Regions from separate parts of the Homo sapiens genome. Here all the other regions are linked to region 1. The links come from fine-mapping of genetic effects on gene expression. A gene starts in region 1. Each other region holds a variant in brackets. All regions are shown on one strand. Distances are between the middles of the regions. Region 1 holds the start of PARP16 (poly(ADP-ribose) polymerase family member 16). Region 2 has its middle 4.2 kb from the start of RNU5B-1. Region 3 has its middle 12 kb from the start of RNU5B-1.

What was found. PIP is the estimated chance that this variant, and not a neighbour inherited with it, causes the effect. A credible set is the group of variants that fine-mapping cannot tell apart.
Region 2: its variant is the best candidate, but not a certain one, in a credible set for the expression of PARP16 in whole blood (INTERVAL, PIP 0.75).
Region 3: its variant is the best candidate, but not a certain one, in a credible set for the expression of PARP16 in whole blood (INTERVAL, PIP 0.58).

The regions. Positions count from the first base shown.
Region 1 is chr15:65,285,808-65,288,307 of GRCh38, forward strand. PARP16 (poly(ADP-ribose) polymerase family member 16) reads right to left here and starts at 1,076. Exons shown (of 6, transcript NM_001316943.2): 1 at 446-1,076. The coding sequence starts at 619. RefSeq lists a silencer at 761-1,320 and an enhancer at 1,471-1,520.
Region 2 is chr15:65,307,417-65,310,261 of GRCh38, forward strand. No RefSeq gene overlaps it. Among named protein-coding and RNA genes, the nearest start is that of RNU5B-1, 4.2 kb to the left of the region's middle. The variant G/T (reference allele first, on the strand shown) is at 1,194.
Region 3 is chr15:65,315,922-65,318,421 of GRCh38, forward strand. No RefSeq gene overlaps it. Among named protein-coding and RNA genes, the nearest start is that of RNU5B-1, 12 kb to the left of the region's middle. The variant AAAAC/A (reference allele first, on the strand shown) is at 1,092.

The DNA of each region.
Region 1 (2,500 bases):
TATAAAAGTACTGCCCATAGATCACCTCATCTGAAGACCAATGTCTGGGCGGCTTTGGTGACTTTTTGGTGTCTAATTATTTGCAAAAGGATGGATAACTTTCTAGCTAAGCAAAACAGCTGATTCACATCAACCCTATTCCTGGCCAGGCTAGAAAATCTGTGGAGGACTATGCAACTATTCCTCACTTCAGTCCTCGGAGTCATTTGTCATTGACAGGAGAGAAGCAGCCACCAAGTGCCTTGGGAGTGAGCGTTGACATGAGGGTGTTAGCAGTGTTCTTAGCTCATGGAAACCTTCCCCAAGGCAAGGCAAGACCAAGCTGGGAATGGAAAGTCTGGCGGCTGTCATGTTTACTAATGCGGATGGAACTGCCTCTACCTGTGGTTCCACAGGGCACTTGGTCCAGGACGCAGTGGGCAGCGCCAGGACAAAGCACACTCACCAGGGCTTCAAAGTCCTTACAGTCGCCGCGGGCGTAGGACGCGGGGAAGGGCCGCAGCACCGAGTCGCGCTTGTAGCTCTGCAGGGCCGAGGCGAAGAGGCTGCACCGGAGGTCGGCGGCCAGCATGTCGCGGCCCGCCGCCTCCCTGGCGGCCGCCCAGCCTGAGGGCTGCATCCCAGGTCACTGCGCGTTGCCGGGGTAGACGCGCTGGTTAGGGGCAAGGGCGAGCGTGCGTTCAGCGCGGGGGCTGGGCCCGCGGACAATGGGCCGTCAGGGGCCGGGTTCCCAAGCCTGGGGTGGAGCTAGGCAGGGGGCTGAGATGACAGGGGTGAGAACGTGCCGACAAGTGTCCTCTGCCGGGGTCTGGGCCGCGGCTCGCCGCCGAAGAGAGAGACCGAGGCCTGGACCGCGGGTCGGCGGGGAGGTTGGGCCCAGGGATAAAGGAACTGGGGCTGGTGGGGGGGAGGGGTTCCCGGCCTAGGGGAAGGGCTATGACAATGGAATGACAACCGCGGGAACGTGCTGACACGTGTCCTCCGCGGAGGCCTGGGGCGGGAAGCAGCCCCCGGGGGACGGCGGGCAGAGCCCACTCTCCGCGACGGGCGAGGCTGCTGCGCCGCGCGCGCCTTCCTGCCCCGCCTCCCGCCGCGCCGCCGAAGTCCCGCCTCTCGCCAAGCTGCCCGCGGCGCCACCTGTCTTCCGCCTGCAGCTCACGTCCGCTTGCCTTGCCCGGCCTACCTCCCCTCCCGCCGCCGCGCTCCGCCCGGCCCAGCCGAGGGCCCGCCCCTTCGCGCCCCAGCCAGCTCCACCGTACGGGTTGTGCCCGCCCCTCCCAGACCCCGATCACCCGCAGCTACGAGAGTTGCCGCCGCCAGTGTGTGCCGGGCGACGTCGCCCACGCCCCTGCCAGCCATCCTCACAGCAGCAGCAGCCCTGGTAGAAATTGATGTGGGCACCCTCTCGACCCGCCCCTGTACTTGTCTTTGTCCCAGCTCTGCGGACTGAGCCTACCTCTCTTCCTTGGGGTATTAATGCTACCTATTGTCTCTCTTGAATCTTTTCCCTCCAAAACTGCACAGAAGGAGCCATTTAACACCCAGGGAAACTGAGGCTTAGAGTGCTGCAATGCTTGCCCAAGATCCCACAGCCAGATGGGTAAATCTAGGATTCACACCGAGATCTTTGGAAAACCAAAAGACTTTTCCTCTGCTTTTCAGCCTCCAGAATTCTCTGAATTGCTTAAGTCTCTGGCCTCAAATGCCCCAAGATCCTCCTTGGGAGACCTCTCTGACAGGGAGCTTGGGGGAGAGCAGAGGGGCATTGACTTAACTCTGCTGGAGGGTAAGGACTAGACTCCCATCCCCTCTCCCTACTCAGAACCTTCATTAGAGAAAACCCCAAAGTGTGACCTCATGGTCACATGCAAATCTAAACACAGACCATTGTGCTTAAACCAACACACCGCACACACTCCTACCCTGCAGGATCTTCTGAGGAAGAAACTTCTCCTTCTGCATCCAGGCTGTGCTGGGCCCTGGACTCAGAGGAGAGGTGGTCCCATGCCATTGGATTGCATCTATGACTTCGGGAGGTAGGGCGAAGACTGGTCCCCCAGACACCACAGAGCTTCCCATCTTCTTTTGCCAGGTAAAGGTTGGGGGCTGCTCCCAGGAGCCCACATCAAATCTGTTTGCTCTGAGGCCTAGAACCACAAGGCCCCTAGTGCTTCAAAAGCCATGGGGGTTCTCATAGGACCCAGGAACTCTAAGGTGGCTTCTGAAGCTCAGACCCCAGGAAGGGAGAGCTTGGAGTGGGTCAGGAGACCAGGGAACCATCTCTCATTCCACCTCTTCTTCATTGCAGGCCCTTAGACAAAAGCCACCCTCTGATACCTCCTTGGCCTCAAGAATTGTTTGTTGGGTGGATATATAAAATTTGCTTATCTGAAGATATTTGTCACATATGATATGAGAATCATAGTGATAATATTCACATCACAGGGTGGTGTGGAAGGGCCTCTGATGGCCAGCATTCTCATGACTTAGCTCATGCAGA
Region 2 (2,845 bases), 22 kb after region 1:
GGTCTTCATTATCTTTCAGTAAAGTGTTATAATTTTTCTACTAAAAATCTCACACTTTTTATTAATTTCTAAAATAATATCTCCTAACTGTACACTGCGGTTTTATAGAAATTCAGTGAACCTGTATGGGATCTTACATCTGGCAACCTTACTTGATTTATTAACTTTAATCTATGTGTAGATTATTTTCAGTTTTCTACCTATATAATCTCATTATCTGGGGATTTTTTTCAATTTTTCCTTTCTAATATTTATAATTATTTTTATTTATTTATTTATTTTTGAGAAGGAGTCTTGCTCTGTCATCCAGGCTGCAGTGCAATGATGCAATCTTGGCTCACACAACCTCCGCCTCCCAGGTTCAAGTGATTCTCGTGCCTCAGCCTCTGGAGTAGCTGGGATTACAGGTGCACCCCATCATGACCAACTAATTTTTGTATTTAAGTAGAGCTGGGGTTTCACCATGTTGGCCAGGCTGGTCTCGAACTCCTGACCTCAAGTGATCTGCCCACTTCAGCCTCCCAAAGTGTTGGGATTACAGGCGTGAGCCACTGCGCACGGCCTCAATTCAGTTTTGGATGTAGGACTTTTCCTTTTTTTTCTTGAGACAGGGTCTCCCTCTATCAACCAGGCTGGAGTATAGTGGTATAATCATGGCTGACTGCAGCTTCTACCTATCAGGCTCAAGTGATCCTCCTACTTCAGCTTCCTGAGTAGCTGGGACTACGGGCATGCACCACCACGCCCAGCTATTTGAATTGTTTTGTAGAGACAGTCTCACCATGTTGCCCAGGTTAGTCTCAAACTCCTGGATTCAAGCGATCCCACTGACTCAGCCTCCCAAAGTGCTGGCATTACAGGCGTGAGCCATCGTGCCCCACCCGGACTTTTCTTTCACATGTGAAACTGAGCCAGGAGTGGTGGCTGTAAACCCAGCTACTTAGGGGACCAAATTGGGAGGATCACTTGAGGCTGGGAGTTCGAGACCAGCCTAGGTGAAATAGTGAGACCCTGTCTCTAAAAGAATAATTTTAAAAAATGGTAAAATTGGCCAGGTGCAATGGCTCATGCCTATAATCCCAATACTTTGGGAGGCCAAGGCACATGGATTGCTTGTGGTCAGGAGTTTGAGACCAGCCTAGCTAACATGGTGAAACCCTGTCTCTACTAAAATACAAAAATTAGCTGGGCAT[G/T]ATGGTGTGTGCCTGTAATCCCAGCTACTCAGGAGGCTGAGGTGGGAGAATTGCTTGAACCTGGGAGGTGGAAGTTGCAGTGAGCCAAGATTCTGCCACTCTACTCTAGCCTGAGTGACAGAGGGAGACTCTCTCTCAAAAAGAAAAAGAAAAAAGTAGTTCGAGACCAGCTTGACCAACATGGTAAAACCCCATCTCTACTAAAAATACAAAAATTAGCTGGGTGTGGTGGTGGGCGCCTGTAGTCCAAACTATTTGGGAGGCGGAGGCAGGACAATCGCTCGAACCCAGGATGCAGAGGTTGCAGTGAGCTGAGATCACACCACTGCACACCAACCTGGGTAACAGAGTGAGGCTCTGTCTCAAAAATAAGTAAGTAAGTAAATAAATAAATAAGGCCGGGCACAGTGGCTCACACCTGTAATCCCAGCGCTTTAGGAGGCCAAGGTGGGCGGATCACCTGAGGTCAGGAGTTCGAGACCAGCCTGACCAACATGGAGAAACCCCATCTCTACTAAAAATACAAAATTAGCTTGGTATGGTGGTGCATGCCTGTAATCCCAGCTATTCGGGAGGCTGAGGCAGGAGAATCGCTTGAACCTGGGAGGTGGAGGTTGCGGTGAGCAGAGATCGCGCCATTGCACTACAACCTGGGCAACAAGAGCAATACTCTGTTTCAAAAAACAAAAAAAGCCCAGGCGTGGTGGCTCATGCCTGTAATCCCAGAACTTTAGGAAGCCGAGGCGGGTGAATCATGAGGTCAGGAGATTGACACCAGCCTGGCCAACATGGTAAAACCCCATCTCTACTGAAAATACAAAAATTAGCTGGGTGTGGTGGCATATGCCTGTAGTCCCAGCTACTTGGGAAGCTGAGGCAGGAGAATTGCTTGAACCAGGGAGTCAGAGGTTGTAGTGAGCCGAGATCACGCCACTGCACTCCAGCCTGGCGACAGAGTAAGACTCTATCTGTAAATAAATAAATAAATAAAATGTAAAATTGACCACAAGGCAGACTGATTTCAGTTGAGTTACGATTTATTTGACAAATATTTATGGAGAAGCTTCTCTGCTGGGCCCTGGGCCTGGGCTTCTCTACTGGGCCTGGATATACAGGGGCAGTAAGAGCCTCACAGTGAACTCTAACAGATTGCAGCAAGCAGGAAAATGAGGCGAAGGGTTGCAGAAGGAGAGAGGAGGGAGCAACTGCTTCTGCCCAAGAGAATCATGAAGACTTCATGGAGGTGACAGGGCCCTTGACACACTGAGAAATGGTCCAGGGAGAGGCACTGGGAGAGTGCATCTCAGGCTGTGATGGACGGACTTCCTTCTGAGTTTTTGGTTGTCGTCTGTGGGGATCGAAGAGTCCCAGAGACCGTGCTCCTCCCGTGGCTAACACTAATTCACCGAGGAGCTATGCACATTCCTTCCCCTCTTCCCTCCATGCTGGGGGTGCCTCCAGGAGGCGAGAACACGCACCGGCCTTCCAGCTGAAAATCCAGGCCCCTCACCAAAATCAGGCCAGGCCAGCATCGGGAGCCTCCAGATGTAATGCACTGAAAAGGACACAGCTTGCCCTCTGAGCTGTTTACACCAAACATATCTGACTAAGTAGTCAGGAGGAAACATGAGACAAATCCACACTGTGGGTTA
Region 3 (2,500 bases), 30 kb after region 1:
GGGATTGCAGTCCTGAGCCCACACTCTTTTTTGAGACAGAGTCTGGCTCTGTTGCCCAGGCTGGAGTGCAGAGGCGCAATCTTGGCTCACTGTGACCTCTCCCTCCTGGGTTCACGCCATTCTCCTGCCTCAGCCTCCCGAGTAGCTGGGACTACAGGTGCCTGCCACCACTCCTGGCTAATTTTTTGTATTTTTAGTAGAGATGGGGTTTCACCATGTTAGCCAGGATGGTTTCAATCTCCTGACCTCCTGATCCACCCAACTCGGCCTCCCAAAGTGCTGGGATTACAGGCGTGAGCCACCACGCCTGGCCGAGCCCATGCTTTTAACCACTGGGCTAGGCTGCCTCTTGTGAGGGGACCTTGATTGCCAGGCCAAAGGCACTGGACTCCTCTGGGAGCAGTGTGGAGCTGTGGTAGGTTACAGACCCAGCCTGCATTTTAGGATGTGCCCAACCTCCTCAACCGTCCCACTCAGGGAGGCAGGGGGGCCGACATTCCTGGGTCTCTTCTCACTCTTCAAAAAGAAAATCTCCCTTTTAGTTAATTTAGACCGCCACCCCTCCCGCCCCACCGCCCCCGACTGGGCTCCCCTGTCGTCTTTTCCTCCATACATAGATGTAAGTTAACAGCATGGGCTTCGAACAAGGAGTCTGAGGTTCAAGCCCCAGCTCCACCACCTCCCTTCTCGGAGCCTTGGTTTCCTCATCTCAGATGGGAGGATGACAGCAAGCCCAGCTCTACCCGCTGCACGGCTGTGAGAGACGCACATGAGGTGATACGGAGGTGTCTACAAAACACCCTAAGAAGCCGGGCGTGGTGGCTCACGCCTGTAATCCCAGAACATTGGGAGGCCGAGGTGGGGGTGGATCACCTGAGGTCAGGAGTTCGAGACCAGCCTGACCAATAAGGTGAAACTCTGTCTCTACTAAAAATACAAAAATTAGCTGGGCATGGTGGCATGCGCCTGTAGTCCCAGCTACCTGGGAGGCTGAGACAGGAGAATTGCTTGAACCCGGGAGGCAGAGGGTGCAGTGAGCCAAGATTGCACCATTGCACTCCAGCCTGGGCGACGGAGCAAGACTCCGTCTA[AAAAC/A]AAACAAACAAACAAACAAATGCCATAAGATGTAATAACTAGCTGGGTGCCATAGCTCGTGCCTGTAATCCCAGCACTTTGGGAGGCCGAGGCAGCTGGATCACTTGAGCTCAGGGGTTGGAGACCAGCCTGGGCAACATGGTGAAACCCTGTCTCTACTAAAAGTACAAAAAAATATGGCCGGGCGTGGTGGTTCACGCCTGTAATCCCAGAACTTTGGGAGGCAGAGGCAGGCAGATCACTCGAGGCCAGTAGTTTGAGACCAGTCTGGCCAACACGGGGAAATCCCGTCTCTTCCAGAAAATACCAAAATTAGCCAGGTGTGGTGGTGGTGCACACCTGTAGTCTCAGCTACTCAGCAGGCTGAGGCAGAAGAATTACGTGAACCTGGGAGGTGGAGGTTGCAGTGAGCCGAGATTATACCACTGCACTCCAGCCTGGGTGACAGAGTGAGACCCCGTCTTAAAAAAAAAAAAAAAAATAGGACAGGCGTGGTGGCTTATGCCTGTAATCGCAGCACTTTGGGAGGCTGAGGTGGGTGGATCACCTGAGGTCAGGAGTTCGAGACCAGCCTGGCCAACATGGTGAACCCTCATCTCTACTAAAAATACAAAATTAGCCGGGTGTCTTGGCACATGCCTGTTGTTCTAGCTACTTGGGAGGCTGATACAGGAGAATCACTTGAACCCGGAAGGCAGAGGATGCAGTGAGCCGAGATCGCGCCTCTGCACTCCAGCCTGGGTGAGACAGAGCAAGACTCCATCTCATAAATAAATAAATAAATAAAAATACGATACAGGCCGGGTGCAGTGGCTCAGGCCTGTAATCCTAGCACTTTGGGAGGTCGAGGTGGGCAGATCACCTAAGGTCAGGTGTTTGAGACCAGTCTGGCCAACATGGTGAAACCCGTCTCTACTAAAAAAATACAAAAATTAGCCGAGTGTGGTGGTGGGCACCTGTAATCCCAGCTACTCGGGAGGATGAGACAGGAGTATTGCTTGAACCCACAAGGCAGAGGTTGCAGTGAGCTGAGATTGCACCACTGTACTCCAGCCTGGGTGACACAGTGAGACTCCGTCTCAAAACAAACAAAACAAAACAAAAAAACAGTACAATACAATAAAAAAAAATAGGCCGGTTGCAGTGGCTCACGTCTGTAATCCCAGCACTCTGAGACGTGGGCGAATCACTTGAGGTCAGGAGTTTGAAACCAGCCTGGCCAACATGGCGAAACCCTGTCTCTACTAAAAATACAAACATTAGCCAGGCGTGGTGGTGGGCACCTGTAATTCCAGCTACTTGGGAGGCTGAGGTAGGAGAATTGCTTGAGCCAGGGAGGCAGAGGTTTCAGTGAGCCAAGATCACGCCACTGCACTCCAGCCTGCATGACAGGATGCTACTTCTG